Regions from separate parts of the Homo sapiens genome. Here regions 2 and 3 are each linked to region 1. The links come from fine-mapping of genetic effects on gene expression. A gene starts in region 1. Each other region holds a variant in brackets. All regions are shown on one strand. Distances are between the middles of the regions.

Evidence for each region. PIP is the estimated chance that this variant, and not a neighbour inherited with it, causes the effect.
Region 2: its variant is the best candidate, but not a certain one, in a credible set for the expression of MRPS18C in whole blood (INTERVAL, PIP 0.54).
Region 3: its variant is the best candidate, but not a certain one, in a credible set for the expression of MRPS18C in B cells (Schmiedel 2018, PIP 0.72).

Annotation. Positions count from the first base shown.
Region 1 is chr4:83,451,848-83,462,037 of GRCh38, forward strand. It overlaps MRPS18C (mitochondrial ribosomal protein S18C), which reads left to right and starts at 4,211. Exons shown (of 6, transcript NM_016067.4): 1 at 4,211-4,330; 2 at 5,062-5,111; 3 at 6,499-6,582; 4 at 7,893-7,950; 5 at 9,126-9,185; 6 at 9,274-10,190. The coding sequence starts at 4,231. The coding sequence ends at 9,350. HELQ (helicase, POLQ like) reads right to left here and starts at 3,976. Exons shown (of 18, transcript NM_133636.5): 1 at 3,550-3,976; 2 at 1,384-2,098. The coding sequence starts at 3,846. ABRAXAS1 (abraxas 1, BRCA1 A complex subunit) reads right to left here. Exons shown (of 9, transcript NM_139076.3): 9 at 7,670-10,190. RefSeq lists enhancers at 3,224-4,054, 3,483-3,532, 3,873-3,982, 3,969-4,263.
Region 2 is chr4:83,494,610-83,504,799 of GRCh38, forward strand. It overlaps the pseudogene RPL30P5. Among named protein-coding and RNA genes, the nearest start is that of ABRAXAS1, 15 kb to the left of the region's middle. The variant T/C (reference allele first, on the strand shown) is at 5,462.
Region 3 is chr4:83,430,626-83,440,815 of GRCh38, forward strand. It overlaps HELQ (helicase, POLQ like), which reads right to left. Exons shown (of 18, transcript NM_133636.5): 8 at 9,238-9,383; 9 at 6,233-6,472; 10 at 1,501-1,642; 11 at 1,039-1,143. Among named protein-coding and RNA genes, the nearest start is that of HELQ, 20 kb to the right of the region's middle. The variant CA/C (reference allele first, on the strand shown) is at 5,348.

The DNA of each region.
Region 1 (10,190 bases):
TGAACCTCACAATTTGGATTCTTGTAGAGTCTTTTATTAGACTTTGTTTCCTGTAGTTCTGCTTCTCCAACCTGATTGTCTTCTCTGCAAGAACCCAAGTTTTCATATCATTCATAAGATCCTAACAGGAGTTCCAGAAAACTTACGAAGTGGAAGGTTGATGGGGCTGACCCTCCAGTATGGCAGCAACTGTCCCTTCTTGGTCTAAAATGACACATATCTGAAATATATGCAAGGACCCTGGATTTTTGAAAAACATTACAAGATACCTTCTTAATATTATTGCTTCTTTGCACTTAAAACAAGTTTGTCCAACCCACGGCCCTCATGAGGCCCAGAATGGCTTTGAATGTGGCCCAACACAAATTTGTAAACTTTCTTAAAACATTATGAGATTTTTTTTTTTGCAATTTTTTTTCTTGGCTCATCAGCTATCGTGTTACTGTATTTTATTGTGGCTCAAGACAATACTTTTTCCAAAGTGGCCCAAGGAAGCCAAAAGATTGGACATCCCTGACTTAAAACTTAATTGCAGCTGTCTTTAAAGATGTCTAGCTTTGGGAAAGGCAGCACAAGGCAGAGCATCTGGGTGGTGGCAGGGATGCACCCGTGGGGAGAGGTAGCTGCGGCTGCTGGTGTGGGGGGAAAGATGTTTGGTTTAATCAACAGTATTACTAATAACTGACTTCTTTCACTCAAGACATGTGAGTGTCAAAGACATACCACAACAGCTAGGTTTTGGTAGAGAAGACAGAGCCAGCCAAGGAAATACAACTAAGAAAGCTGAGGATCTCTACTAGACAATCGGGGTCAAAAAACAGGAGTGGTTGTAAGGACATCCAGAAACAAGAATTTCAAGAAGGGTGTAGTCAATAGCATCAGGTAAGTTATTGAGAAGTCAGGTAAGGTAAACATTAAAAGTAACACTGTGTTTAGACGTCTCAGTCATCAGATCTTAAGTGAGAGAATGAGAGCACAGAACCCAGAATTAGAGTGGGGTAATTTACTAAAGTTCTTACTTAGAAGCTACCAATATAATTATTGAAAATCATTACCAACATTGAATTTGGCATGTCTTTGAACCAGAATCTGACTTGCTAACAACTTATTATCCCTTTCTTATAGATGAGGAATTAGAGGAATTATGTCAGGTAAGGAAACAGACAGAAAGGATAACTGGTTTGATAAGTGTGACTGTGAGGGAAGGAAAGAGGTTCAGTGGTAGCAGGACAGGTAGGAATGGAAGGGGCTGAGAGATCACTGATCTTTTGTTTTCAAAATGAGAAACAGTATGGACCATGAAAGCATTTGCTTCTATTTACTTGCACTAATATTATGGTAATGATAGGAAAAAAATTTTTTTATTCCAGCAAAAAGCATTACCATATAATTTTTCAATTCCCTTGAATTGGGCATAAAGGTCTCTCACTTTGCTGGGTAATGAATAAAAAGGACCAAGGTCATTTGATGATGACTCAACTGTTTTCTTAGCAACATTAATTTCCTCAGATAGGAGAGTGTCTTTGAGCTGTTTACTTCTAGAAAATATTGGTGTCTGGGCCTTCGCATTTCCAGTCATGGCATTTTTTAGATGATCTTTAATACTTTTTCTCCTGTTCATATCTGAACTAGTTCTGACTTTGGAAGAGGACTCATCATTTTGCTGGGGTTGCTCTATGCAATTATGGGGCAGTTCCTCATTCACAGTGTTGTGAGAGGATGACTTCCAATCCCTTTCTTTCATAGAATGATCACCCAAATCATTTGAAGAGTTCTGCAAATTTTCAAAGTATATAGCCTGTGAGGAAGGTACATCATACAAAAGATCAGCTCCAGGTTCAATAGTGACACCTTCATATCCACTCTGGTTCTCTGTGTGCTTATCAGTTTGTAATTCAGTAAGGTTGCCTATGGTAGTAATGCTGAGTTTGTTTTTGATACTTTCCGAGCAAAGATTTTCAGTGGCAAAGTCTGTAGCATGTTTCTTATGTTCAGGGAGTTGCATATATTTTTGTTCCAGGTCGTCAACTTGAGCTATAAAGGAGTTTTCAGTAAAGCTATCATAGTCACCAAACATGTCCACTTCACTGTCATTAGGCTGCAAAGAGAACAAAAACGCTTATGGTCAATTCCAGTTTCATTAAGAATAAAAGCTTCACCAGCCTGGCCAACATGGTCAAACCCCGTGTCTACAGAAAATACAAAAATTAGCCGGGCATAGTGGCATGCTCCTGTAATCCCAGCTACTCGGAGGCTCAGGCAGGAGAATTGCTTGAACCTGGGAAGCGCAGGTTGCGGTAAGCCCAGATCGCGCCATTGCACTCCAACCTGGGCAACAGAGTGGGACTCTGTCTCAAAAAAACCAAAACAAACAAACAAACAAAACCCCCAAAAAACACTTCAGCCTAGGGCTGTACCAAGTATATAATTATATGGTCACATATGGATCACAGACCTATATGTAAATAGATATCTTACAGCTGAAGAAATGGAGGCCCAAAGAGGTTAAATTACTTGCCTAAACAGCAGGTTCAGGAGTGTTACGATGATACTGAGATTCTAATTTTTGAGACAGGGTCTGGCTCTGTCACCCAGGCTGGAGCACAGTGGCTCCAGCCACTGCACGATCACAGCTCACTGCAGTCTTGACATCCTGGGCTCAAGCGATCCTCCTGCCTCAGCCTCCCAAGTAGCTAGGACTACAGGTGCAGGCCACCACACCCGGCTAATTAAGAAAAAAAAATTTTTTTTTTTTTTTGTAGAGACTGGGTCTCTGTTGCCTAGGCTGGTTTTGAACGCGAACTTCTGGGCTTAAGTGATCCTCCCATCTCTGCCTCCTAAAGCACTGGGATTATAGGCATGAGCCACTGCACACGGCCAGATTGTAATTCTTAAAGCTGTACTAAAACAGCAGGAAGACTGGTAGACGTCTACTGAAATGTCAGCGCATTCGAAGTTTCTGATAACTGCAGCGCTTCCCTCCCAGACTACAATCTACAGTGACTGGCCTCTAACAGAAACATGGTTGTACCACTAGACACTCCAAGGAGTTCCTAGGAATTTGGAATTGAGACTGAGAAACTGAATACTGACTTGGAGTGGTCTGCTACACAGAAGACACACAAACCTGGAGGCAGCAATATAGTAAAGTGATTAAGACAACAGGATTTGGAGCAAGAACTGTACTATCTCAACTTTTCAGGGCCTGATTACTGTCGTAAAATCTAGATAATATAACTAGCTTAACATAACGGGTCTTCAATAAACAGCAGATTTTATTTGTACAGTAGGAGCTGCAGTTATCTGGAAGCCTAGATTTGTGTCTCAGTCATGCCACTTAACTGCTGCGTGCACAACTTTTATGTCTCGGGGTTTACATTTCATATTTATATAGAAATGTAAATAACAAGGCAATCAATACCTCCTAAGTGCCGATTAACAGTGGTAACGAAGACGAGAGAAGTAAACGAAGGCGATAAAACTGGTCAACTCTTTGCATCTGGGAAGGATGCCAAAAGTTTGCAGTTTCAAGTTCCAAGTCCTCCGTACCTGGTCTCCCACCCCTCTGTCAGTGGGCATGTGACGTAGGAGGTCCGGGTTTGTATCACCACCTCCAAGGACGAGACATTCCGGGGAATCTGAGAGTAGAAGGGGCTGTACCTCAACCGGCAGTACGCCCGCGGTTTTCCGCCTCCTGTTCTCAGCCACCATTTCCTCCTCCTCTTTCCCCTCATCTCCGGGCACGAGCTCGGCCGCGGTGGGAGCGCCAAAAATACACCCCAAGCTTGGACGGTTCCTTTTGGGGAGAGACACCCGCCGGCGGATGCGGGAACCACATTCATCCATGGCAAGGACCCAGGGCCCTATTCAGACGTCGTTCTCAGTGACCCAGACGCTAAGCCCATATGGAAGGGAGAGTGGGACGCCGGAGCCCGCTTCTACATCCACCTTGGGAAAAGACCCCAAGTTAGCTCTCAGGGCTCGCGGACCGGAAGCACGCATAAACTTCTACCCTGTCCAATCATAAGCCTCACGTGACCTGCCGCGTAGGGAGGGCACGAACAGAAAGGTGCTGCGCATGCGTATTGAAAAACCTCACCTACTCTCGCGGGTCCTCAGCGTTCTCCTGCGGAACCTTTGAACGGGGTACTCGAGCCCACAGGGGAAGAGCAGCGGAAGGGGCCTTTCGGAACGATTTGGAACGAAAGGAAGTGGAAGAAACGCGGAACCATGGCCGCTGTGGTTGCTGTTTGCGGTGGTCTAGGGAGGAAGAAGTTGACACACTTGGTAACGGCTGCTGTCAGCCTTACACATCCCGGGACTCACACGGGTAAAGTCTCCATATCCTATGCTCCATTGTAGCGCTGCAGGCATTAACCTTAGTCCTAATGGTTAGAGTCGTCCCTGTTAGCAAAACGACTCTGGTTTCTAGGCGATTAAGTTTCTCCAAGATGGGTGGGAATCTGTAATTGCCTTTGACTGTTTTAGTGTCGTCTAATCCACTCCTTTAAAGTATTTAAACGTATGAGGAAGTTGGAGTGGTTCTTAAAAAGCAGAGACTTTCCTAAGATCTCTGGATAATCTTAGTGAGGAAGGGACATTTCCAGAGTCGCCCAGCAGCAAATTCCAGATGTCTAAGGTCCCCAAACAGAACAAAATTGCATAATTTTTGCAATTTTATCTTCTCTGTGCTTCTCTATAAATTCTTTCTGGGACGGGTCTGTTACTTTCTTTTTGGTATGACAGTGCCTTTCTGTTGCTTCTCCTATAAGAATTTGCATTAAGAATTTTCTCTAACCATGGAATGAAGGGAAAATAAATGTCAGAAAGAGCAGGTATGGGCGGGAAAATATGTTCTTTTCCCCCTAAGCCCTGGAAAGCACACCCATGTTGAGTCTTACTCTGTCCCAAATATAAAAGTTTTTAACCATTCTGAATATAATACAAAACCTTTCTTTAATATCGTGTCCCTTAATTCATCCTGTCTCCATAAAAACAAAAATCTTTAGCTATTCAGCTAAGAAAAAGAAATGGTTAATTGCTGTTTCTGTTTAATCGCAGTGCTTTGGAGAAGAGGTTGTTCACAACAGGTATCCAGCAATGAGGACCTGGTAAGAATTTTTTTTTCTATTAGTAAGGCCTTTGCAAATATGACCAAAATGTTTTTCTTTTTAAAACGAGATCTGGTATTAGACTCTAACATCTTTTATTTTAGCTACTTGAATAGAGTTCTGCCGTAGGACAAAACAATTTGATAATTACTCTGAGTTCAGAAATGATGATGAATTGATTGTAGTCATGTAGTCAGCTGAGTTTTGAAGTAGGGGAATTCCTAGATTAGAAGCAAAGCTGCTATAATACCATATTTTTCTTCCTAGATCTTAAATTTAAGGATATGTGATTTGGGAATTGTTTTTTTTTTTTTTACATAGCCCTTTGTAAGCAAATGATATGGGAATTTTAAAAGGTAGTTTGGGTGAGCAGAATTTTAGATAACTGAAAAGAGACTGTACAAAGCTTAGCTATAGGTTGGCTATAGTATTAACATGGACTTTCTGAAAGCACAGGTTCTTGCTACATGCAAAGGTATTTTGACACTAATTAGACCATACAAAGCACTTGGCACAGAGCTGAAGAGTAGTTACGTGAGCTGAATGTAAATTGGAAAGTTTGAGGAATTGGAAAAAACAAAAGAACTTGTCTAGTTTCTCTGAGCATCTGTCTTGGTAATCTAATCCATGCACCATACTTTAAGAAAGTAAAGGGACATTATTTCTTTTTTAGTTCATAAATCCCACTTTGTCTCTAATCAAAGTTATGGACCCTCTCCACAGAAAAAGGCACACAGTCCCATTCATTTGAAGTTTTGCATACGATTACAGGGAGTCATGGGCTTCAAAGCCATTTCTAGATTAAGAACCTCTATCCTGGAGACAGCCATACTGACTGTAGGAAGGAGGCACTGTGACAAAAGCATTAGAGGCAGTGGTGGTAACAGAAAAGCCAAAAAGACTGATACAAACTTATATAGTAGCCTGGGGTGATAAAGTCAAAGAACCTTTTATTACAGTAAGTCATGGGCCATTATCTGTGTATAAAAATAGTGATAAAATACTTGATAGAGACATGGGGATGGATAAATTAGGGATTGTACTCATTTAAGAATGGCATATGTTATCTATTGTGTTGTAAGTTTCCTTAAATCTAAAAATTTTTTCATTATCTACAATCTGAGCAAAGCATTGGAACACTTTCTTATCAGACATCATTTTTGTTCTGCCATAAAATTTTATTCTATGAAGATTGTACTTTATTCCAGAATCTTCCCATGCGTTAATCCGTAGGCTAAACTAAAACAAAATAAAGTGCTTATACAAAATATGTACACAGTAAGAAAGGTATAACTAATCCTTTGAATGGATTTGAATGTAGAATAGTAACCTTTTAAAATTCAGAATTAACACATCCTATTATCAGACTTTTCGTTTTTTTCCCTAGCCCATTTCAATGGAAAATCCTTATAAAGAACCTCTTAAGAAATGTATCTTGTGTGGAAAGCATGTAGATTATAAGAATGTACAGGTGAGATCTGGTTTTACTTCACTATATTTTAGGGTTTTGCTTCTGATAGATCTGCTTAAAGAGAATCAAGTCAGTTTATAGCAGGCTTTTGTAGAGGTAACTGTTTTAGCAACTTCATAATTTCAAATTTGGTTATAATTCTATGTATAAGCTTATCTCTGCTTTATTCAAGTAAAAGCACCTTGGCTTTCCCCCACTTACTGTTATTTCCACTCTGTTTTTTTCACTACCCCAAACATCTTAATAGCTCCCTGTGGCAGTAATTCTCAATTGGTGAGGGTCAGAACTTTGGAAAAAGCTCATCTGGTGAAGCTGATCTCTTTATCTCACCACCCATATCACTGATTCACATATTACTTATCTCTTGTCTAACTCTCAGCAAGTTAGAAGTTGCAAATTTGGGGCAAGTGAATAGCGCTAGAATTCTGTATGTTGGCTGGGTGTGGTGGCTCACGCCTGTAATCCCAGCACTTTGGGAGGCCAAGGCGGGCGGATCACCTGAGGTCAGGAGTTTGAGACCAGCCTGGCCAATGTGGTGAAACCCCGTCTCTATTAAAAATACAAAAATTAGCTGAGTGTGGTGGTGCATGCCTGTAATCCCAGCTACTTGGGAGGCTGAGGCAGGAGATTTGCTTGAACCCAGGAGGCGGAAGTTGCAGTGAGCTGAGATCGTGCCATTGCACTCCAGCCTGGGTGACAAGAGTAAAACTCTGTCAAAAAAAAAAAAAAAAAAAAAAAAGAATTCCATATATTGACAATAGTATAAAGTGATAGCTGCCTTTGAGGAAGAACCAAGAATTACAAAAACACACATACTAGGAAGATTATGCAAAGTGCCAAGAATAATGACTAGCACCTAGAAAGGTTCTAAAGAAGTATTTAAATAAAACATAAATTATAGCAAATGCCTGGTGTACTTGTACCTCTTGAAAATCTCATTACCCCCTGATAATTTATCTTAATGATTATCAGAGGGTAATGTGATAGCTTGTCAGGATAGATGAAATTTTTTAGTAGCTTGTTTCAAGCAATATTTTAGAAAGGTATCTGTGGAAGTCAAGAAAACAGATTTACCATTGAATGAATATGCTGATTAATCTGCTGTTTAATTATATATAGACTTGACACACTGGATAGAAAATATTTAAAAGGTAACAGGAGGATAACAATATTTTTTTCTTATATTTTATGAAATGTGTCTGAAATTTAGTAAAGCTTTATATAACCTGAAGGTTGTTTTTTGAAATTTACACATTCAGAAATAAATAACAGATACTTTTTTTTCCCCTCCACATAAAACTCCAAAACAGCTTTTGTCCCAGTTTGTTTCTCCATTTACTGGATGCATTTATGGAAGGCACATTACAGGTATGTTCTTTTTTATTATGGGAATATAAATGTAGATACGAATTATATCAATCTATTTCTATCATTTAAGAAAACTCAAATTTTCAAATTGTGCTATAAATTACTACTAGATCAGATACTACAGGGACTAGAGCTAGTTACTATGAAAAAGTCTCTTAGGCCAAGAGGATTATTATTTTGCTGTCTTATGCAGAGTTAACTATATAGAAAAACTGGGCTTTAAAAAACTGTTGTTGATGTTTTGGAATATACTATAATCATTCCTAGATTGATACTTAAACTTGGTGTCAGCAAACTATGGCCCATAGGCCAAATTCGACCTGCTCCCTTTTTATCTTGATTAGGTTCATCATATACAAATGCCACTTTTTTTTTTTTTTGAGATGGAATCTCACTGTCACCCAGGCTGGAGTGCTGTGGCACAATCTCGGCTCACTGCAACCTCTGCCTCCTGGGTTCAAGTGATTCTCATGCTTCAGCCTCCCGAATAGCTGGGATTACAGGCATGCACCACCACGCCTGGCTAATTTTTGTATTTTTAGAGATTGGGTTTCTCCATGTTGGCCAGGCTGGTCTTGAATTCCTGACCTCAGGTGATCCACCTGCCTAGGCCTCCCAAAGTGCTGGGATTACAGGTGTGAGCCACTGCACCCAACCCCACTTGTTTTTGTAGTTTTGTTTACGTAGTGCCATATGGTTGTTTTCGAGCTACAACAGCAGAGTTGAGTGGCAGTGATGGAGACTGTATGGCCCACAAAACCTAGATTATTATTGTGGCCCTTGACAAAAATGATTTACCAATCCTTGACTTAAAAACTTGTTGAGGCTGGGCATGTTGGCTCACACCTGTAATCCCAGCACTTTGGGAGGCTGAGGTGGGCAGATCACCTGAGGCCAGGAGTTCAGGACCAGCCTGGCCAATATGGTGAAACCCCGTTTCTACTACAAATACAAAAAAATTATCCGGGTGTGGCGGTGCATGCCTGTAATTCCAGTTACTAAGGAGGCTGAGGCAAGATAATCGATTGAGCCTGGGTGGCGGAGGTTGCAGTGAGGCGAGAGAGCACCACTGTACTCCAGCCTGGGTGACACAGGGAGACTCCATCTCAAAAAAAAAAATTGCAAACTTTAAATATTGACATTTTTTATGAATAAGAAAGCTTTTTATTTTACAGGTCTTTGTGGGAAGAAACAGAAAGAAATCACAAAAGCAATTAAGAGAGCTCAAATAATGGGTAAGAAAGAATACCTCAACAACTGAATTGAGCTAGCTGAAATTTTGCTCATTATGTTTTGTCAAGAACTTTAATTATCTCTTTACAGGGTTTATGCCAGTTACATACAAGGATCCTGCATATCTCAAGGACCCTAAAGTTTGTAACATCAGATATCGGGAATAAATTCTATCACGTTACCACTAATAAACTTATTTTACAGTAAGTGGTTGTATGATGCCAATACTGACTCAAACCAACCTTTGGATAGAAAAGTGTTTGAGGAGTGAGGTAAAGAATGACACTTCCCCTTCATACCAATGTCCATTAAGCAGATTGCTTATTTAAAATGTTAACACTCATCACATTTTATCTATGTTGAATAAAAGTGGTTCTGTGTGATTGTCATTTATATCTGATCCCCAAATAGCTCATACAATAATCCATTCAATAGAATGGAATTAAAACTGTTCAGAATGATTTTCCAACTAGCAAATATAAGTATGCCTGGTTAAGATATCTTCCCTTTGTAGAAATGTTACATTGGGATGGATAGTGGTGCTGTCACAGAAGGACAAAATATTCCTAGACGAGTCTACCCTCAAACCAGTAGTGTCTTTTACATGAAGAGATGATTTACACCTAATAGACATTGAATATGATAGACATACATGTATATATGTATCAGTTCTGAGTTCCACTGGCCTATCCCAAATACACTGGATTACCAGGCTTGTACTGTATTCAAAATGATAGATTTGCTAAATTTCATGCAAAGGACTCTAAACTAGGGGAGAGATTACTGTTTGTGTTGTGTTATAGTTGTGTAATAATTAAGGCTGCCAGATTTAGCAAGTACAAATGTAGGACAAATTTAAATTTTAGATGATGTTTTGCAAATTTATTGCATGATATCCAGCATTTTATCTGGCAACTCTAGCCATAATGTACTTCTAAAAAAGTATCACTTAAGGAGAATTTTAATGACTCAGATAAATTTTCATATAAATTTCTTTCCATATTTTG
Region 2 (10,190 bases), 43 kb after region 1:
GGTTGCAGTGAGCTGAGATTGCACCACTGCATTCCAGCCTGGGCAACGGAGTGAGACTCTGTCTAAAAAAAAAAAAAATATATATATATATATATATATATATATATATATATATATATAAACATGTATATATATATATAAACATGTTTATATATATTTTTTATATATGTTGATATATATGTTTATATATAAATATTTTTAAAAATTATATATAATTTTTATAAATATATTTATATATATATTTTTAAAAATTATATATAATTTTTATAAGTATATTTATATATAAATATGTATAAATTATATATAATTTTTATAAGTATATTTATATATAAATATATATAAATTATATATAAATATTTAAAAAATATATAAACATGTTTATACATTATATGTTTATATATATTTTATATATAGTTTTTATATTTTTATATATAAATATATATTTATGTTTTATATATAAACATATATAAAATATATAAACACATATATAATATGTATAAACATATATATAAAAAACATACTTAAAAAAATTAAATTTAATTATAAAAAGATACTGAATGGGCTGGATGTGGTGGCTCACGCCTGTAATCCCAGCACTTTGGGAGGCCGAGGTGGGAAGATCAGTTGAGGTCAGGAGTTCGAGACCAGCCTGGTCAACACAGTGAAACCCCATCTCTATTAAAAATACGAAAATTAGCCTGGTATGGTGGCACACTCCTGTAATCCCAGCTACTAGGGAGGCTGAGGCGGGAGAATTGCTTGAACCCAGGAGGCAGAGGTTGCTGTGAGCCAAGATCGCTCCACTGCACTCCAGACTGGGTGACAGAGCCAGACTCTGTCTAAAAAAAAGAATACTGAATGGATAGAAGCTAAAAATGCTACAAAACTCATCTAATTAGTTGCTGTCAATATTACATGTTTTTTTCGTTTTTTAAAAAATAATAATTGTATACATTCATGGGCTACGTAATGTTTTTTTTTTTTGGGGGGGACGGAGTCTCGCTCTTTTGCCCAGGCCGGAGTGCAGTGATGCAATCTTGGCTCACTGCAAGCTCCACCTCCCGGGTTCACGCCATTCTCCTGCCTCAGACTTCCGAGTAGCTGGGACTACAGGGGCCCGCCATCGCGCCCGGCTAATTTTTCGTATTTTTAGTAGAGACGGTATTTCACTGTGTTGGCCAGGATGGTCTCAATCTCCTGACCTCGTGATCTGCCCGCCTAACCTCTAAAAGTGCTGGGATTACAGGAGTGAGCCACGGCGCTCGGCCCTACATAATGTTTTAATACAAACAATGCATAGTGATCAGATCAGGGTAATTAGCATATTGGTAATTTCAAAGATTTATCATTTCTTTGTGTTGACAACATTTAATATTGTAAGAATTAAAGAAAGAGGAGAGAAACACAAAGGATGGCTTTTCAGTCAACAGGGGCAGGTTTATTTTAAATAAACCTGAGAAGGGCGGTTGGCTGAGTTAGGTCAGAGCCACACTCTCTAACAGACTAAGAGTTTCTAAAGATTCAGGATAGGAGAGTTTATAAGAGGCTTGGACTGCTTCTGTGTCTCTTTGTTGTGCTTATCTGGGAGGGACAGTTGCGTTTCTATTCCCATACACCTTTTTGCAGCTGCAGGCATATCCCCCAAGTCTGCTTTTAGCTTCTCTATCTTAGTATTCCTGAAGGGAAAGAAAAGTGCTTATTAAGGCCCACTGTCTTACTGGGGCCCATTGTATGAGGGTGAAGTTTGGCAGTTACCCAAGAGACTTTCTCCTCACCTCCCTCTGTTTCCAAGCGGTCTTATCTGTGTTTTACTGTCTGCTCTTTCTGGCTGCTTGTAGTTAGAAGAGAAGTGATTTCCTTGAAATGCATGAGGCTAGAAAGGGAGCTGGAACTTAAAGTGGTGGTGTTTGTCCGAGATGACGGTGCTCCTGCTCTAGCAAATATCCTGCCAGGCGTAGTGGCTCACGCCTGTAATCCCAGTACTTTGGGAGGCGGAGGCTGGGGGATCACCTGAGGTCAGGAGTTTGAGACCAGCCTGGACAACATGGTGAAACCCCATCTCTACTGAAAATACAAAAATTAGCTGGGCATGGTGGTGCACACCTGTAATCCCAGCTACTTGGGAGGCTGAGGCACTAAAATTGCTTGAACCGGGGATGTGGAGGTTGCAGTAAGCCAAGATTGCACCACTGCCCTCCAGCCTAAGTGACAGAGCAAAACTCCATCTTAAAACACACACACACACCCACACAAACACACACACACAGAGCAACATTCAATATCCTCTCTTCTAGCTATTTGAAACTATACAACGCATTATTGTTAATTATAAGCAACCTGCAATGCTGCAGAGCACTAGAACTTATCCTCCTATCTAGCTGTAATTTTGTATTCTTTAGCAAATCTCTACCTATCCTCCCCTTCCCAGTCTCTAATATCCTCTGGTTCCACATTTTACTTCTATTAGATCAACTTTTTTTAGCTTCCACATGTGAGTGAGAATATGCGGTATTTAACTTTCTGTTAAGATCATTTGCCTACTTTATAATCAGACGTTTTCTTGTTTTGTTTTTTGCTATTGAGATGTTTGAACTCTTTGTATCTTCTGGATATTAATCCCCTGTGGGATGAGTAGTCTGAAAATATTTTCTCTGATCCTGTAGGTTGTCTTTTCACTCTCTTGATTGTTTCCTCTGCCGTGCAGAAGATTTTTAGTTTGATATAATCCCATTTGTTTATTTTTGCTTCTGTTGTCTGTGCTTTTGAGGTCTTATTCGTAGAACCAAGCCTGGTGACATATTGATTTTGAACTTAGAGCTTCCAGAACTGTGAGAAAGTACATTTCTGTTTTTTAAGCCACCCAGTCTAATGTAACAATAATATATTTAGATACCTTTTAACTTCTCTCCCTGCCCCCACCAAATATCTAATGGTCAGAATAAATAATAACAGGGAAGACAAACATGTTTTGTTTTGTTTGAGAATGAGATGCACCTGATCACAGTGGATTTTAAGCTCTTTTTGTATATATACTAGGGAATGGCTGGATGTCTTTTTTCATAATTATTATACTAGGATCACATACTAGTTAGTAACTTCAAATAGGGCAGTCAGATAGGCTTCACGTGCCTCCTTCAAGCACCAAAAGCTATACTCTGGAAACTCCAAGATCAGTGTTAAAGTCCTACACAATTTCTCACACCAGATGCTGGATGAGACATTTGAAAAATAAAAGTTTAGTGAACTTCTAACAATGTCTGGTTTCAAGGAATGCCAGAGTGCCAGGCCTGTAGTGATAAGATTTCTTCACTCCCTGCTTGATTTGCAGGCAATCAGCTTAGAAAGAGCTGTGGTATAGAAAACTTGTTCCTTACCAGCCCCCTGCCTTTTGCCTGGAGCTCAGCAAGCTAGAGGTGGCATTGATACCAGAAAGAGATGGCTGAGCAGCTGCAAACACAACTGAGAGAGGATCTGGGCTATGTAAATTTTATTTCAAAATAAATTGCTACCTTCACAAAGTTGTGGAAAAGTTACTGCATTTAGATGTGACAATTAGGCTAGGTGCAGTGGCTTACACCCTAATCCTACCACTTCAGGAGGCCGGAGCAGGAAGATTGCTTGAGCATAGGAGTTAAGAGGCTACAGTGAGCTATGACTGTACCACTGTACTACAGCCTGGGCAATGGAGCAAAAACTTGTCTCTTGGAGAAAAAGAAGGAAAAGAAAAGAGGAGAGGAGAGAGAGAAAGAAAGAAGAGAGGGAAAGAAAGAAAAAGGAAAGAAAGAAAGAAAAAGGGAAGAAAGAAAAAGAGAGAGAGAGAAAGAAGGAAAAAAAGAAGGAAAATGGACTCTCTATGTCCTGTGGGTTCATGCTGAAAAGTTAAAAAACAATAAAATAAGGACAAATTCTTTGATAGCTGTTTAAAGAGACAGAGAGGAAATACATATAATGATCTTATATATTACTGTGTGTGGTAGTTTGTCTGCAAACATGGCCATCAACAATTTCTCCTACCCTATGCACTCATGCTGCTTCTCCCATCAAGTAGTCTATTTTCCCTTCCTTTTAACTGAGGTGGCCTGGTGACTTCCTTTAATCAATACAATGCATCCTGTGTGACTCTGCCACTTCCACACTTAGGCTTTAAGTGTTCTGGAAGCTTCCACCTTCAACATCTTTGAAGTCAGCCACTGTGCTGTACAAAAGCTCAGGCCAGACCACTGAATGATGAGAGCCATGTGGAGAGACACTCTAGAAGATGAGCTTCTCTGGAATGGTTTGGCCCCAGGTGTGCTTCGGGCTGAACATAGCCTCATGAGTGACTTCAAATACAACAAGTGGAGTGGAAGAACCACCCAGCTAAATTCAGTCAACCTACAGAATCAAGAGAAATAATAGATCATTGTTATTTTAAGCTACTAAATTTTAGAGTGATTTTTTTTTTATGAAGCAAGAGAAAACTAAAATATCTTGTGTAAATGTTTATTTTTATTTTTTTGAGACAGTCTTGCTCTGTCACCCAGGCTGAAATGCACTGGCACAATCTCAGCTCACTGCAACCTATACCTCCCAGGTCCAAGCAATTATCGTGCCTCAGCCTCCCGAGTAGCCAGCATTAAAGGCATGCACCCCCATGCCCAGCTCATTTTTGTATTTTTAGGCGAGTCAGGGTTTTGCCATGTTGGCCAGGCTGGTCTTAACTCCTGATGTCAAGTAATCTGCCAGGCTTGGCCTCTCAAAGTGCTGGGATTACAGGCGTGAGCCACTGCACCCAGACTAAATGTTTATGGTTTTTTTTTGTTGGTTTGTTTGTTTTTGAGATGGAGACGCGCTCTGCCACCCAGGCTGGAGTGCAATGGTGCGATCTCGGCTCACTGCAACCCCTGCCTCCCGGGTTCAAGTGATTCTTCTGTCTCCGCCTCCCCAGTAGCCGGGATTACAGGCACATGCTGCCACGCCCGGCTAATTTTTTGTATTTTTCAGCAGAGACGGGGTTTCACTGTGTTGCCCAGGCTGGTCGAGAACTCCTGAGCTCAGACGATCCACCCGCCTCAGCCTCCCAAAGTGCTAGGGTTACAGGCATGAGCCACCGTACCTGGCCATTTATGTATTTTTCAGTCTCCTGAGTGGCTAGACTATAGACATCCACCACTAGTCAGCTAATTAAAAAAATTTTTTTTTGTAGACATGGGGTCTTGGTGTGTTGCCCAGGCTGGTCTGGAACTCCTGGCTTCAAGTGATCCTCCCACCTTGGCCTCCCAAAGTTCTGGGTTTACAGGCATGGGCCACTGTGCCCAGCTATCTGCTGTTCTTAATCCATGAGACTGTGATGATAATTTGGGACATCTGGTCTCCAAAGAGAAAGAAGCTGGATGGCTCATGGCCTGACAATTGATGTAGCTTTACTGAATGCTTTACAGATACGGAAAGCTAAGAGTAATGCAAAACTACAAGGGCTGCA[T/C]AGTATTCCATGGAGTATATGTACCACATTTTCTTTATCTAGTCTTCCATTGATGAGAGCATGTCCTTTGCAAGAATACGGATGGAGCTGGAGGCCATTATGTTACTGGTGGAAGGTATCTGAGTTACTGGTGGCAAATCTGTATGGGTCTGCAGCAACTTCAATTCTTACCTCCTCAGAAGAAAGAATTCAACTGAGAGGTATAAGGCAGAAAAGGAGACCGAAACAAATTTCAGAGCAGGAGTGGAAGTTTATTTAAAAGGCTTTAGAACAGGAAAGAAAGAAAAGGAGAGTAGGCTTGTAAGAGACCCAAGCAGGCACTGAGATCAAGTGTGGTGTTTAACCTTGACCCTGGAACTTTATAGGCTGGCTTTCCCATGACTCTTCCCTTAGGATGGGCTGCCTACACACACAGCGCCCTCCTTATCTTTGGGTGCACGTGTTTAGGAAGTTGTACACATGCCCATCTGAAGCTTTCTCCCCTTTTTTGGTGGTGTTTTCTTGGAGGGTCATACTCCACCATTTTGTCTCTTAATGCGCATGCCTGGGAAGTTGCTTCGCCCTGGTGTCTGTATTCAATTAACACCTTAGTGCAAAAGGTGTGGACCATCAGGAAATGGCCTCTCCCTGGCACCGGCTGCCAATGTATCACTTTTAGAGAGGTGATGTGATAATTACTGAACCATCATCCACATTCCTAGTGGGTTGGGGAGTCTTCTCCTGACCCCTGCTCATGCCTAACTACCTGTAACAATTATCCTTAGCAAACTAATCCAGGAACAGAAAACTGAATATGCATGTTTTCACTAACAAGTAGTAGCTAAATGACGAGAACACATGAACACAAAGAAAGGAACAACAGACACTGGTGTCTACAGGAGGGTGGAGGGTGGGAGGAGGGAGAGGATGAGGAAAAATAACTAATGGGTACTAGGCTTAATACCTGGGTGATGAAATAATCTGTACACCAAACCCCCATGACACAGACTTACCTATGTAACAAACCTGCACACGTATCCCTGAACTTAAAAATTAAAGTTTTTTATTTTACTTATTTATTTATTTTTTAGACAGAGTCTCGCTGTGTTGCCCAGGCTGGAGTGCAGTGGCGCAATCTTGGCACACTGCGAACCTTTACCTCCCAGGTTCAAGCGATTGTCCTGCCGCAGCCTCCCAAGTAGCTAGGACTACAGGCACCTGCCACCACGCCTGGCTATTTTTTTTTGTATTTTTAGTAGAGATGGGTTTCACTATGTTGGCCAGGCTGGTCTTGAACTCCTGACCTGGTGATCCACCCACCTCGGCCTCCCAAAGTGCTGAGATTACAGGTGTGAGCCACTGGGCCCGGCCTAAAATTAAAGTTAAAAACAAAACAAAACAAAAAACTATAAGGGCCAGACCCTTACTCAGGGTCTTTTATGGAACTTTCTCTGACTGGCCCCAAACCAACACTGCTATAGCCCAAGTCTCAGTCCCACTACTACTGTGTGTAGCGTTAAGATTCTCTACTCTCAGAGTCTAAGCCGAATGGCAGAAGACAAGATAAAGGAAAGGTTTTCCTTCCTCCTTCTAATGAAAGGTGCACTGCCCCACATTATTTTCTGTTCTAGAATCCGTCTCCCCTCAGGAGGACTGCCACACCTCCAAGGGAAGAACTGCACCATCACAGAGGGTGTGGTCTTGCCCTCCACAACTCTCTTAGACCAATTGCCTCAGAACCCATTGAACATTTCTCTTTCTTCTTTCTTTCTCTTTCTTTCTTTCTTTCTTTTCTTTCTTTCCTTCCTTCTTTCTTTCCTTCTTTCTTTCCTTTCCTTCTCTCTTTCTTTTCTTTCCTTTCTTCTTTCTTTTCTTTCTTTCTTCTTTCTCTGTCTCTCTCTCTCCCTTTCTCTCTCTTTTTTTTGACAGAGTCTTGCTCTGTCACCCAGGTTGGAGTGCAGTGGTGCTATCTTGGCTCACTGCAACTTCTGCCTCCCAGGCTCAAACGATTCTCGTGCCTCAACCTCCAGAGTAGCTGGGATTACAGGCACTCGCCACTATGCCCGGCTAATTTTTGTGTTTTTAGTATAGATGGGGTTTCTCCATGTTGGCCAGGCTGGTCTCGAACTCCTGGTCTCAAATGATCCACCCGCCCCAGACTCCCAACATGCTGGGATTACAGGTGTGAGCCACTGTACCCAGCCCCACTGAATATTTTGCTTAAATCTTTGGCACCCTTTAACAAGGTAATGGCATTTGATGCCCTTTTAAGTAAATTAATTAACAACACATTTACATCCCAACTAAAAGAAAGTACTAGAATATATGAATGAGGATTTTGTATAAGTAGCTGAATAGTGGGATTGGGAAGTAGTATAAATAGCACTCGGAAAATCAGGTTTTAGTATACCAGTAATATATATGTCTATAGAACCCCATTATAAACCTGTTACATTTTAGTGGGAAGTCATTAAAGCCTGCAAAAATGAGGAATGTACCCAATAGGCAGAACCGGAGACTATGATTTTAAAAACTATTTAATGTAGGCTGTGAAGAACTTTGCATTGTGAGAACTCCTTCCTTTCTTGCTCCCTGGCTATCTTGGTGGCTGCTCTTGACTGGGGGGCATCGCATCTCTAAGGCAGGAAGATGCTGGCTGCAGTGAAGATGAAAAAGTCACTAGAGTTGATAAACTCTAGGTTCCAACTCATTGTGAAAAGTGGATAGTACATGCTGGGATGCAAGCAGACTCTGAATATGATCAGACAAGGCAAAGCGAAATCAGTTGACCTCACCACAACTGCCCAGCTTTGAGGAAATATAAAATAAAGTACAATGCCACACTGGCCAAAACTGGTGTCCATCACCACAGTGGCAATAATTTGGAATTGGGCACAGGTTGGGGAAAATACTGCACACACTGGCTATCATTGACCCCATTCTGATATCATTAGTAGCATGCCAGAGCAGACTGGTGAAAAGTAAAACAAGCACAATTTTTCTTTTTCTTTTTTTCTTTTTCTTTTTTTTTTTGTCCAGGCTGGAGTGCAGTGGCATGTGATCTTGGATCACTGCAAGCCCTGCCTCCTAGGTTCAAGCAATTCTCTCTCCTGCCTCAGCCTCCCAAGTAGTTAGGATTATAGGCGCCTGCCACCATGCCCAGCTAAGTTTTGTATTTTTAATAGAGAAGAGGTTTCACCATGTTGGCCAGGCTAGTTTTGAACTCCTGACCTCAAGTGATCTGCCCGCCTCGGCCTCCCAAAGTGCTGGGATTACAGGCATCAGCCACCGTGCCCAGCCATCAAGCAAAATTTTTCTTTAATAAAACTTGCCTCAGCTTGTTTCAAACAAATATTTAACATAAAAGTGAAGTCATAATTTTTTAAGAAGAATAAACTATGGTACAAGTGGCCCAATTTCCAAAAATTAGACTCTTCCCCCAAACTTTTTTTCTTTATTAATCGGAGAAAGAAACCAGTGATATACCACTGGGCATATTTTGAAGGTTGCATATATGCTACAATATTGTCTCATGCATTTGGACTTTTCAGGTTTTTTTCTTAAGATGGTCATTTTTTTCTTCACTCATATATTTTTCATCCCTATTTCATTTTATTTATTTCTGAGATGGAGTCTCGCTTTGTCGCATTGGCTGGAGTGCAGTGGCACAATGATGGCTCACTGAAACTTTGAACTCCTAGGCTCAAGCAATCCTCTCACCTTGGCCTCCCAAAGTGCTGTGCTGGGATTACAGGTGTGATCTACTGCACCCGGCCTATTTATGTGTGTGTGTTTTTGTGTGTGCGTTTGAGACAGGGTCTTGCTCTGTTACCCAGGCGGGAGTGCAGTGGCACAATCATGACTCTGCACGGCCTCAACCTACCAGGATCCAGTGATCCTCCCATCTCAGCTTCCCAAGTAGCTGAGACCACAGGCATGTGGCACCACACCTGGCTAATAAAAAGATTTTTTTGTAGAGACAGAGTCTTCCTATGTTGCCTAAGCTCTATTTATGTTTTAAATTAATCTTTGCTCATTACTGTGGTGAGTTACTCTTCACAGAAATGCATCAGGAAATTGAAACAGACTTTTTTGTAATGTAAAAGTTGTGATTGGCTGGCTGGGGCTGGGGGCAGGGGCAGGGGCAGGAAGTGGAGAAGTACTGTGTGTCTGTTGTGTTTGTACACTATTTCATTTCATAACAAACCACTATTCTACTATATCAAAGTCATAGATTAAAAAATTTAGGCTCACAGAAGTTATTTGCTGAAGGCCATGCTCACTTCAGACCAGACACTTTGCATTCATTGTATTACATAATTTTGTCTCACTAAGGTCCTAAGAGATGCTGTACTTTTCCTGTTTAGGAAGAAACTGAGGCTTAATGCTTTCCTTCAACTCAAACTCACTGTTATCTGACTCTAAGGTCTGCACCTTCACCTGAGTTCACTGTGAGTGAACCTGTAGCCTGGGGACAGAGATCTTGTTACTGAAACATGAGTGGTTTGGTCTAGGTCCTGCTGCTTGCTGCATAGAAAGCCAATCACTGAAACGACGAGTATCACCAAGGAAGAAAGCTTTAGTCAGATGCTGCAGCCAAGGAGATGTGAGCTCAGTCTCAAGTCCATCTCCCTGACTACTAAAATGCCAGGTTTATATATCAGGGACGAAGTGTAACAATGTGTAAGAAAACAAGAACTGGGGAGGGGCAAGGAAGCAGTCACCTGGTGCCGTGATCTGGTGACTTTCA
Region 3 (10,190 bases), 21 kb before region 1:
ATGCTATTTCAACTGGAAAATTTAAGTCGTAATTTCATATTAAACCAATATAAGGGGTAAGAAAAATATAATGGAGCACAGACATTTTCTATTGCTTCTTCCCACTTTAATAAAAATCATTATTAATATAGTATTCAATTAAGCTAAAATTATACTTTTAAGATATTTAAGAACTGATACTTGGTTTTTGGATTATTAATGTACTTTGTTTTTGTACTGTTTCCTACCTAAATGATTAGAGTTAACACTGGGGGTGGAAGAGTGCAGGGGGGCAGGGGAACCTTTACTTGATCCCTCTATCTACCATCATGTTATCTTTCTATTCCTCCCTGAAAAAGTTTTTGACATAGTAATTGAAACCCACTGGGCCAGCCTCTGCTTCTGGCTTCTCAAATCCAGATTCTCCACTGATGCCCCAACTTGGAAGTTCACCCACGCTCAGTTCCAAAGTTAATTTCATCACCATGTCCCAGATTAAAGAAAAAACAAACAAACAAACAAACAAAACAGGCCAGGCGCAGTGGCTCATGCCTATAATCCTAGCACTTTGGGAGGCTAAGGTGGGAGGACTGTTGAGGACAAGAGTTCAAGACCAATCTAACCAACATAGCAAGACCCCATCTCTAAGAAAAAAAAAAGCCAATTTCATTAATTCAAGTATTTATTAAGTGCCAACCACTTGCCAAGCATTAGGATTCAGTGATCTTTTTTTTTTTGAGATGGGGTCTTGCTATGTTGCCCAGGCTGGTCTTGAACTCCTGGGCTCAAACGATCCTCCTGTCTCAGCCTCCCTAAGAGGTGGGATCACAGGTGTGAGCTACTGCACCTAACCATTCCATGATCTTTTAAAAATTATTTACATTAATCACTGAAGGGGATGAGAAAACAAAATTAAAAAGAAAAAAATTAAAAGAAAAAATTATTAAATAAAAAATTAGTATAAAATCTACACAGTTGCATATATAAAGTTATTGCATAACTTTTTAACCTCTATTGTCTCAGATAACAGTAATAAGATAAAAAATTTAAGAAAAATACCTTCAAACCAATCAAAGAGAGAAATAATGTTTGGATTCCCTTGGTGAATTCCTGAACAAGATGGCTGTAACAGTTTTCCAATGGTTTAGTTATTAACTCCAATACCTATAAAGGTTAAAGCAAAACCATGCCTTGTGTTATTATTAAAAATAAATGGTATTTAATATAAATATTTTATACTTTACATAAATCTTGTGGAGCCAGAAGGAGACCAAAAAAGTAAAGACAAAAGAATTTAACATTTATCTTCATTAAAAATGGAAGAAAAACAAATAGGAAAAATATTTTTTCATTGTCTGAAATACATACATTTTCAAACCACTCTAATTCTTAATCATATAGGAAAGAAAGCATCATTTAAAGAAAATTAATAATTAATTTTTAAAAGATGATTTCATAAAAGGGCTAGACCAACAACCAAGAAAAAGACAAAAACAACCAACCAACCAAATTGAGTATTACCTGTTGTTTGTCTTTTTCTTGCAATATGAGGATACTCTCCCCAATAGTATCTATTCCAGCACGACCAGCTCTGCCAATCATCTGTTTATATTGATTCCTCTTTAAAAATTCCTTAGCAACATAGGGAGCTCTTAAAATAACTCTGTGGAATTAATGAAAAATGATACTCTACAGCAAACAGCACCAATTTAAAAAATTCTTAATTTCATTATATATTTGTGATATTAAATTTAATGACATACTAACACAAAATAATAGGTAACTAGTGTTTACCAAGAATCTATGATTTCTTAGGTTTTTACACATATTATCTATAATTCTTACAAAACTCTTAGTTATAATATACTTTTTTATTTCATTTTTATAAAGGAATTAATTACAACTCAGTTAACTGACTTATCCTAAACTAAAAAATTAGTAATTACCAGAGCTATCATTTGAACTCAAGTCTGCCCAGCTGCAATGCCTATGATCAATCTGTAGCAGTAGTCTCCAAAGCGTTTGGACTTTATACTCCATAAATAAAAAATATGACCATACACCACTAACATATACATATCTATTTATGAATTTTTATTATTTTGAACTGTATAAAATTGCAGATGTCAACTGTTTTTGACCTACAAAAATGGTGATTTCAGCCAGGCTCAGTGGCTCATGCCTGTAATCCCAGCACTTTGGAGGGCTGATGTGGGAGGTTTGCTTGAGTCCAGGAGTTTGAGACCAGCTTGGGCAATATAGTGAGATGCAGTCTCTACAAAAACAACAACAACAACAACAAAAAACTGGCTGGGCATGGTAGTGTGCCCCTGTAGTCCCAGATACTTGGGAGGCTAAGGTGGGAGGATCACTTGAGCCTAGGAGGTTGAGGCTGCAGTAAATCGTGATTACATCACTGCACTCCAGCCTGGGCAACAGAGTGAAACCCCATCTCTTAAAAAAAAAAAGCAATTTCAATTATGTTCATATATACAGAAGTCTATAGTCAGTTAGTCAGCTTTCTTATCCAAAGGGAAGAAAAAACCTATTGTTTACCTATACTAGTCAACTTCCTCTTTATTTATAAATCTCATATGCAGAAAAGATTACCAAATACTTGAAGAAAACTAATAACATAAAAGAAACATAACATGAATATACAGAATAAGTGACCACAAAACCAGATAATATAGGGATCAGAAGAGAACTTTTAAAAATCCTAATTAGCATTAACAGAAAATTCCAAAGAGTATTATATCCACAATATAAGAGTAGACTATTGGCGGGGCGTGGTGGCTCACGCCTGTAATCCCAGCACTTTGAGAGGCTGAGGGGGGCGGATCACGAGGTCAGGAGATGGAGACCATCCTGGCTAACACAGTGAAACCCCGTCTCTACTAAAAATAAAAAAATTAGCTGGTCGTGGTGGCAGGCGCCTGTAGTCCCAGCTACTCAGGAGGCTGAGGCAGGAGACTGGTGTGAACCCAGGAGGCGGAGCTTGCAGTGAGCGGAGATTGCGCCACTGCACTCCAGCCTGGGTGACAGAGCGAGACTCCGTCTCAAAAAAAAAAAAAAAAAAAAAAGGAGTAGACTATTGGCCGTGTGTGGTAGCTCATGCCTGTAAATCCCAGCACTTTGGAAGGCGAAGGCAGGAGGATCACGAGGTCAATAGATTAAGACCACCCTGGCCAACATGGTGAAACCCCGTCTCTACTAAAAACACAAAAACTAAAAAACATTGTGTTGTGTGCCTGTAATCCCAGCTACTTGGGAGGCTGAGGCAGGAGAATCACTTGAACCCGGGAGGCAGAGGTTGCAGTGAGCAGATATCATGCCACTGCACTCCAACCTGGAGACAAAGCGAGACTCTGTCTCAAAAAAAAAAAAAAAAGGAGTAGACTATTATAAGGAAAGAACAACAAAAGAGAGTTCTTAGAAATAAAAAAAAATTAACTTTATTTAAAAATTCATAAAAAATTTGAAGGGCCAGGTGTGGTGGCTCACACCTGTCAATCTAGCACTTCGGGAGGCCACGGTGGGCAGATCACCTGAGGTCAGGAGTTTGAGACCAGCCTGGCCAACATGGCGAAACCCCGACTCTACTAAAAATATAAAAATTAGCCAGGTGTGGTGGTGGGCGCCTGTAATCCCAGCTACTTGGGAGGCTGAGGCAGGAGAATCGCTTGAACCCAGGAGACAGAGGTTGCAGTGAGCCGAGACCGCACCACTGCACTCCAGCCTGGCCACTGGGCAACAGAGTAAGACTCTGTCTCACAAAAAAGAAAATTCAATTGAAGAACTGAATAATGAATGAAAATAGTTAATGGATACAGTTAATGTAGTTAATGGATATCAGTTAAAAACTCATTTTTTTTTTTGAGACAGGGTCTCACTGTTGCCCAGGCTGGAGTGCAGTGGTACAATCATAGCTAACTGCAGCCTCGATGTCCTGGGCTCAAGCAATCTTCCCACCTCAGCCTCTCGAGCAGCTGGGATCACAAGTGTATGCCACCATGCCCAGCTAAGTTTTTAATTTTTTAGTAGAGATGAGGTCTTGCTATGTTGTCCAGACTGGTCTCAAACTCCTGGGCTCAAGCAATCCTCCTACCTTTGCCTCCCAAAGTGCTGGGATTACAAAAAAACTGATTTTTTGATATGGAAGGTAAAGTTGAAAAAAATTACATGGCACAAACGTGTGCTTACATTCTTCCACATTCTGAAAAATGTGTAAGAAAAGAGATACGAAAGCTGAATCTAAGAGGCCTCAACCCTGCCTAAGTGAAATTATAAAAGCAAGGAACAGAGATAATGGGAAGAAAAAGAAATAACAGAAAAAAAATTACTCAAAGAAGAAAGGCATAAAGCTTAGATTAAAAGCATCCACCCAAGTGCTAAGCCCTATGAATGAAAAGTAGTACTGTTGGGATTGTAAAATCAAACTTCCTGGGTTCAAACACTGGCTTTAAAACTCATTTGTTGGAAAATGAGTTGGGAAAAAGTTATGTAACTTTTTAAAGTTGGGAAAATTATTTAATTATTTAGTGCCTCAGTTTCCCCTTCTATAATAGGTGTGTAATAAAATATGACCTTCCTCACAGAGTTATTGTGAAGCTGTATCAAGTCAATGCATGTAAAGTTGTTACTACATGAAAGGGAGGGGAATGTAGTAATTACAACTATTATTATACACCATGACAAAATTGGGAGGTTAAAGAGAAAAGTCTAAAAGTTTCTGGAAAAGAAAAACAGAAAATCCATGCAGAGACAAAAATGAGCAACATTGGCCTCTAGAAAATATGGAACAATATTTACAAAATCCCTAAAGGAAAAAAATTGAATCTAGAATTCTTTTGCTAGTGAAGTGTAAAAGTGTGAGGCCAAAATACAGATATCTTCAACTATGCAAAGAGTCAAAATGTTTTACCCCCTAAAGCGGTATTCTAAAAAGGATTACTCAAGGAAGGCAAAATTAAAAAAAAAAAAATCAGAGAAGAAAGATGTGGGATATAAGAGGCAGTGGTAAGCAAAAAAGAAGTATGATTTACAGGTAAGTTTAAATACTACATAAGATGAAAGAAAATGTTTAAATCTGGCACTAAAATTCTAAGTAATTGCAACATTCATGGGGCAGAGTAGAATATACTAAGGACATGCTAAGCCTCTTTTTATGTTCAGGAGAGGACAGTTATTGATTAATTCTAAAGTAATAAAAAATGTTTGGTTACAACTTAAAATTTTAAGAGTAACCACTGGAATAATAGAAACAGGATATATAACTTTCATTTTTTTCTTCAATTGTCTGAAAAATGGAAAACTTAATGAGAGACAGAAATTGAAAATAAAAGAATGGAAAAAGGTACATACGTGG[CA/C]AAAAAAAAAAATGAGTCCTGGTATTCAAAGCAAAATTATTAAATGAGAAAAACAAGTATTTATTGTATTGATAAAAGGTATAATTCGGCAATAAGATATTTGAAGTAAACCTTTGTATATCTAAATAGTTTTGAAATATAAAAAGTAATAACTTCTAGAGATGCAAAAAGGAGAAACTGATAACTACATAATTAAAGTGGGAGACTAACACACTTCTCTGAAATTGATAGACCAAGGAATCAAATATAGTAAGAAAATAGAGAAGCCGATAACACAATGAACCTCTGTGATCTCGCTGAGATGTACAAAACTGCATATTCAACTGAAAATACATATTTTTTTAAACACTCATGGAAAGTTTATAAAAATTGATCATTTATTAGCAAAATACCCCATGATCATAAATTATAAAGGGGAGAAGTCAATTACACAGGCCTACACCTTTGGTAATAACTGGAAAGGTAATCAAGGGCCTGCTTTAAAATACATATATTAGACACAAATTGCCTATGGATCAGCTCTCCAAGATTTCAAGGAAATCTCTATGTTAAATAAACTCTTTCATATCATAAAAAAGGTAAAACACTTGCCAACTATTTCTACAAAACCAGATTAATAGACCCTAACATCAAAACCAGATATAAAGAGCAGAAAGGATGGAATTCTAATATCAAGAAATCTATTAACGTTATTTTTCATTACATATTTCATTACATATTCATTAAAATATTAAAGAAAATAAACCAACCAATCAACTCAGCATATGCTAAAAGAACATTTGATAAATTCTCATCCACTACTGAGAAAGCATAAAACAACAAAACTCCTCGCAAGCTAGAAATGGAAAAGTTCTGAGCCTGGTCAACACTTACTTATCTCTTACCTTCGAGCTGGTAGGTTGACACCTGCCGCTAGGGTAGATGTGCAGGTAAAAAGACAGAGCACTCCTGTGGAGTAGGCCTCCTCCAAGAGTTTCCTTTCATCACTTGTTAAGCCACTGTGGTGATAGGCAACTCCAAATGGGATAGTGCGCTTTAAAACAGGACACAGGTTGCCATTGCCAATATTCTTCAAGTTCTTAATCACCTCACATTTTTCTTTCTCCTTATGTTTCAGATATTCCCTATGAAAAAGATCTGTTAGAAATATGAGCCCTTGATCTTTTAGTGACAAAATTTCTACCATTTTCATTTTAGTAGATGCTAATGTAAACATTCTTTAATGTACTATTTCCATTGAGTTAAGTACATTAAATGTTCTTAGAATTTTGATTCTGACTTCATTAACTATTAGGCAGTCTCTCAATCTTTTTGTGGATTACAGAACCCTGTGAAAATCTTATCAAAACTAAGGAAAGGCGAAATGCGATGGCTCATGCCTGTAATCTCAGCACTTTGGGAGGTAGAGGCAGAAGGATTGCTTGAGCCCAAGAGTTCAAGATCAGCTTGGGCAGTGAAGCAAGACCACCTCTACAAAAAATAACAAAAATTAGCCGGGCATGGTGGTGCATGCACCTGCAGTTCCAGGCTATGGGGGAGGATGAGGTGGGATGATTGCTTGAACCCGGGAGTTTGAGGTTGCAATGAGCTATGAACCTACCAGCCTGGGTGAAAGAGCAAAGCCTTGTCTAAAAAAAAAAAAAAAAAAAAGGAAAAATATAACTATTTACATAAATACAACACTTTACATATAATTTCAGAGGGTTCGTGGATTTCCTAAAATTCATTCCTGTACTTCCTTTGAATCCATGGACACCAGGTTTAGACCTTTGCTCTGGATGTTATAACTGTTTTTTTCTTTATAACATATATCTTTATAGGGGATAGTTTTTTTAAAGACATAAATTTTCTTTTCTGAAGATGGAAACATACATATTATTAAATCATACTTCCATGGTAAAACACTGCCTAAACACTTGCACTTTAGAAACTTCACATCCTACAATGTTTCCATCACTTAGCCAGTGTCTCCATCTTATTACCTTGAATTACTCTAAGAAAATGAATGATTTACTGAGAATTTTTTTAATGATAATTTAATTTCCTTAAGCTTTTATAATCAAAATCATTGTAAAAGCAGACTGTTACCAAAATGAGCAACTCCTTCATCTTATTCCAAACATTTTTATATTTTGCTATTCAATAAATTTAAGTCTATCTTAGACCAATCCATGATAGTAGGATTGAAAGAGGAGGTAGAGGTTGACTAGATTAGCATTCAGGTTAATAGACTATGAATAGTGATACAGCATTAGCTAAGGGGCTGAAAGAAATCTCAGAAAATGATAAAACCACACATGGGACAAACAGGTGTATAAAAAACTGAACTGTTAGTAGTTAAAGTAACTTCATACTTATCTCTATGAATACGACAGAGCCAATATTAAGATACTACAAAATTATAAGACAACACATTTCTTACTCAGGAAATTATATCCAAATGTCCATACAACTAAGTGTGAAGTTTACTAAGAAAACAAAGGCAGGCCAGGCGCAGTGGCTCACGCCTGTAATTCCAGCACTTTGGGAGGCTATGGGGGGCGGATTGCTTGAGCTCAGGAGTTCGAAACCAGCCTGGGCAACATGGTGAAATACTATCTCCATGAAAATTACAAAAAATTAGTTGGGAGTGGTGGTGTGTGCCTGTAGTCCCAGCTACTTGGGAGGCTGAGGTAGGAGGATCACTTGAGCCCAGGAGACAGAGGCTGCAGTGAGCTAGCTGAATTTGTGCTACTGCATTCCAGCATAGGTGACAGAGTGAGACCCTGTCTCAGGAAAAAAAAAAAAAAAAAAGGAAAAGAGAAAAAAAGGCAATGGAAGATACAATTCATTTCCACAGTGGTAACAGTGATTAGTCCTTTGACTGACTAAGCCAGTTGTTCCTGTCCTTGGCTATATGTTGGACTTGCCTGGGGAGCTTTACAAAATGATATCTGGGTGTCACTCCCAGAGATTCTGATTTGTCTAAGATGTAGCCTGGACTTTGGAATTTTTAAAAGCCTCCAAGATGATTCACTATGCACCCAAGGTTTTGAATCACTGACCTAATATTACTTAACATTCTCATACATATAGTCTTAGGGTTTTGTCTTTTTTTTTTCCTTTTCTTTTTGAGACTGAGTCTCCCTCTGTCACCCAGGCTGGAGTGCAATGGTGTGGTCTCAGCTCACTGCAACCTCTGCCTCCCAGGTTCAAGTGATTCTCCCGCCTTAGCCTCCCGAGTAGCTAGGACTACAGGTGCACGCCACCACACCCAGCTAATTTGGTATTTTCAGTAGAGACAGGATTTCACTATGTTGGCCAGGCTGGTCTTGAACTCCTGACCTCATGATCCGCACACCTTGGCTTCCCAAAGTGCTGGGATTACAGGCATGAGCCACCGTGCCTGGTCTTCTTTTTTTTTTTTGATGGAGTCTCGCTGTGTCACGCAGGCTGGAGTGCAGTAGTGCGATCTCAGCTAACTGCAACCTCCGCCTCCCGGGTCCAACAGATTCTCATGTCTCAGCCTCCCCAGTAGCTGGGATTATAGGTGCAAGGCACCACACCCAGCTAATTTTTTGTATTTTTAGTAGAGATGGGGTTTCACCGTGTTGGCCAGGCTCGTCTCAAACTCCTGACCTCAAGTGATCCACCCACCTCGGCCTCCCAAAGTGCTGGGATTACAGGCATGAGCCATGGTGCCCAGCCACCTTAGAATGTTTCTCTGGCTATTTCACATGTGATTTTTCACAGTTAAAATTTCTTTCTTCAAGGTCAAGGCCTTCAGTATACTAAAACAACTTAATATGATGTTTTGCAAGGCATAATTAGTGTTTGCCCAATAAAATTAATACATAGTCTGTAATTCCTAATAAAAATAAAACAGGCTATTTAAAAAATATTAACATACTTGCTTAAAAATTTGCATATCATTTCTGCTACATTTTCACAGTTCTTCTTACTAGGACAAAAAACTAAGCAGGAATAATTGGGAATAACTTCTGTCACCAATGCTACCAAGTGATCAGGATCCATCTTTTTTAGGGTATCAGAATACTGCAAAACAACAAGATGTAGGAACAAAGTGGTTAGTAAACATGAAACCCTGTCAATTTTTTACCAGTGTGATTTGAAAGGTAAATAAACCATCTATAATTCTAAACTTCTAATTTAATAAATCTGATCATTTAAAAGAAAAGATGAAATCTATATTAAACATCAAAATGTTCAATCTCACTTTTCTTTTAGGTTATTATGATTTTCTTAGGTCTAGTTAGTCTAAAAAAAAACCTAGAATTAAACAAGTGAATTAAAGAAAATTAAAGAAGTGAAAATAGTTAATGTTATTAATAGCCTCACTACATGCCCATCTCCACCACAGCAGAACAAAAAAGTCCACAGAGAGAAACACAGATTGATCCTAATAATAGTTAACGGACTGTGTAAATAAGACATGCCCTTTACAACCATTAAGTTTTCAAAAACACAGATTCAATCATACTACTGAATTATGACAATTTTTGTAGTCACATGAGGAACACAAAGAACATGAAGAAAAAATGTGAAGTTATTTAAAATCTATTTCTTCAACTTTACTAAAGACATAGCTGTAGAATAACACATCTTCACAGAATTCTAAAACTACTGTATAATCCCTTCTTCCCCTTTTTAATATCCTTCATACAAGTCATAAAACACTAAAATTTACATAGTAGACATTAACATTTTATACACCAATATCTGAACTACATGGTCCATAAATTATTCTTTTGTTGTTGTTGTTGTATGAATAAACATTTACAGGAGAGTTTTCCAAATTTTCTTTGTTCACAGCCCCAGGGCCCAAAGAAATACTTTACAGTT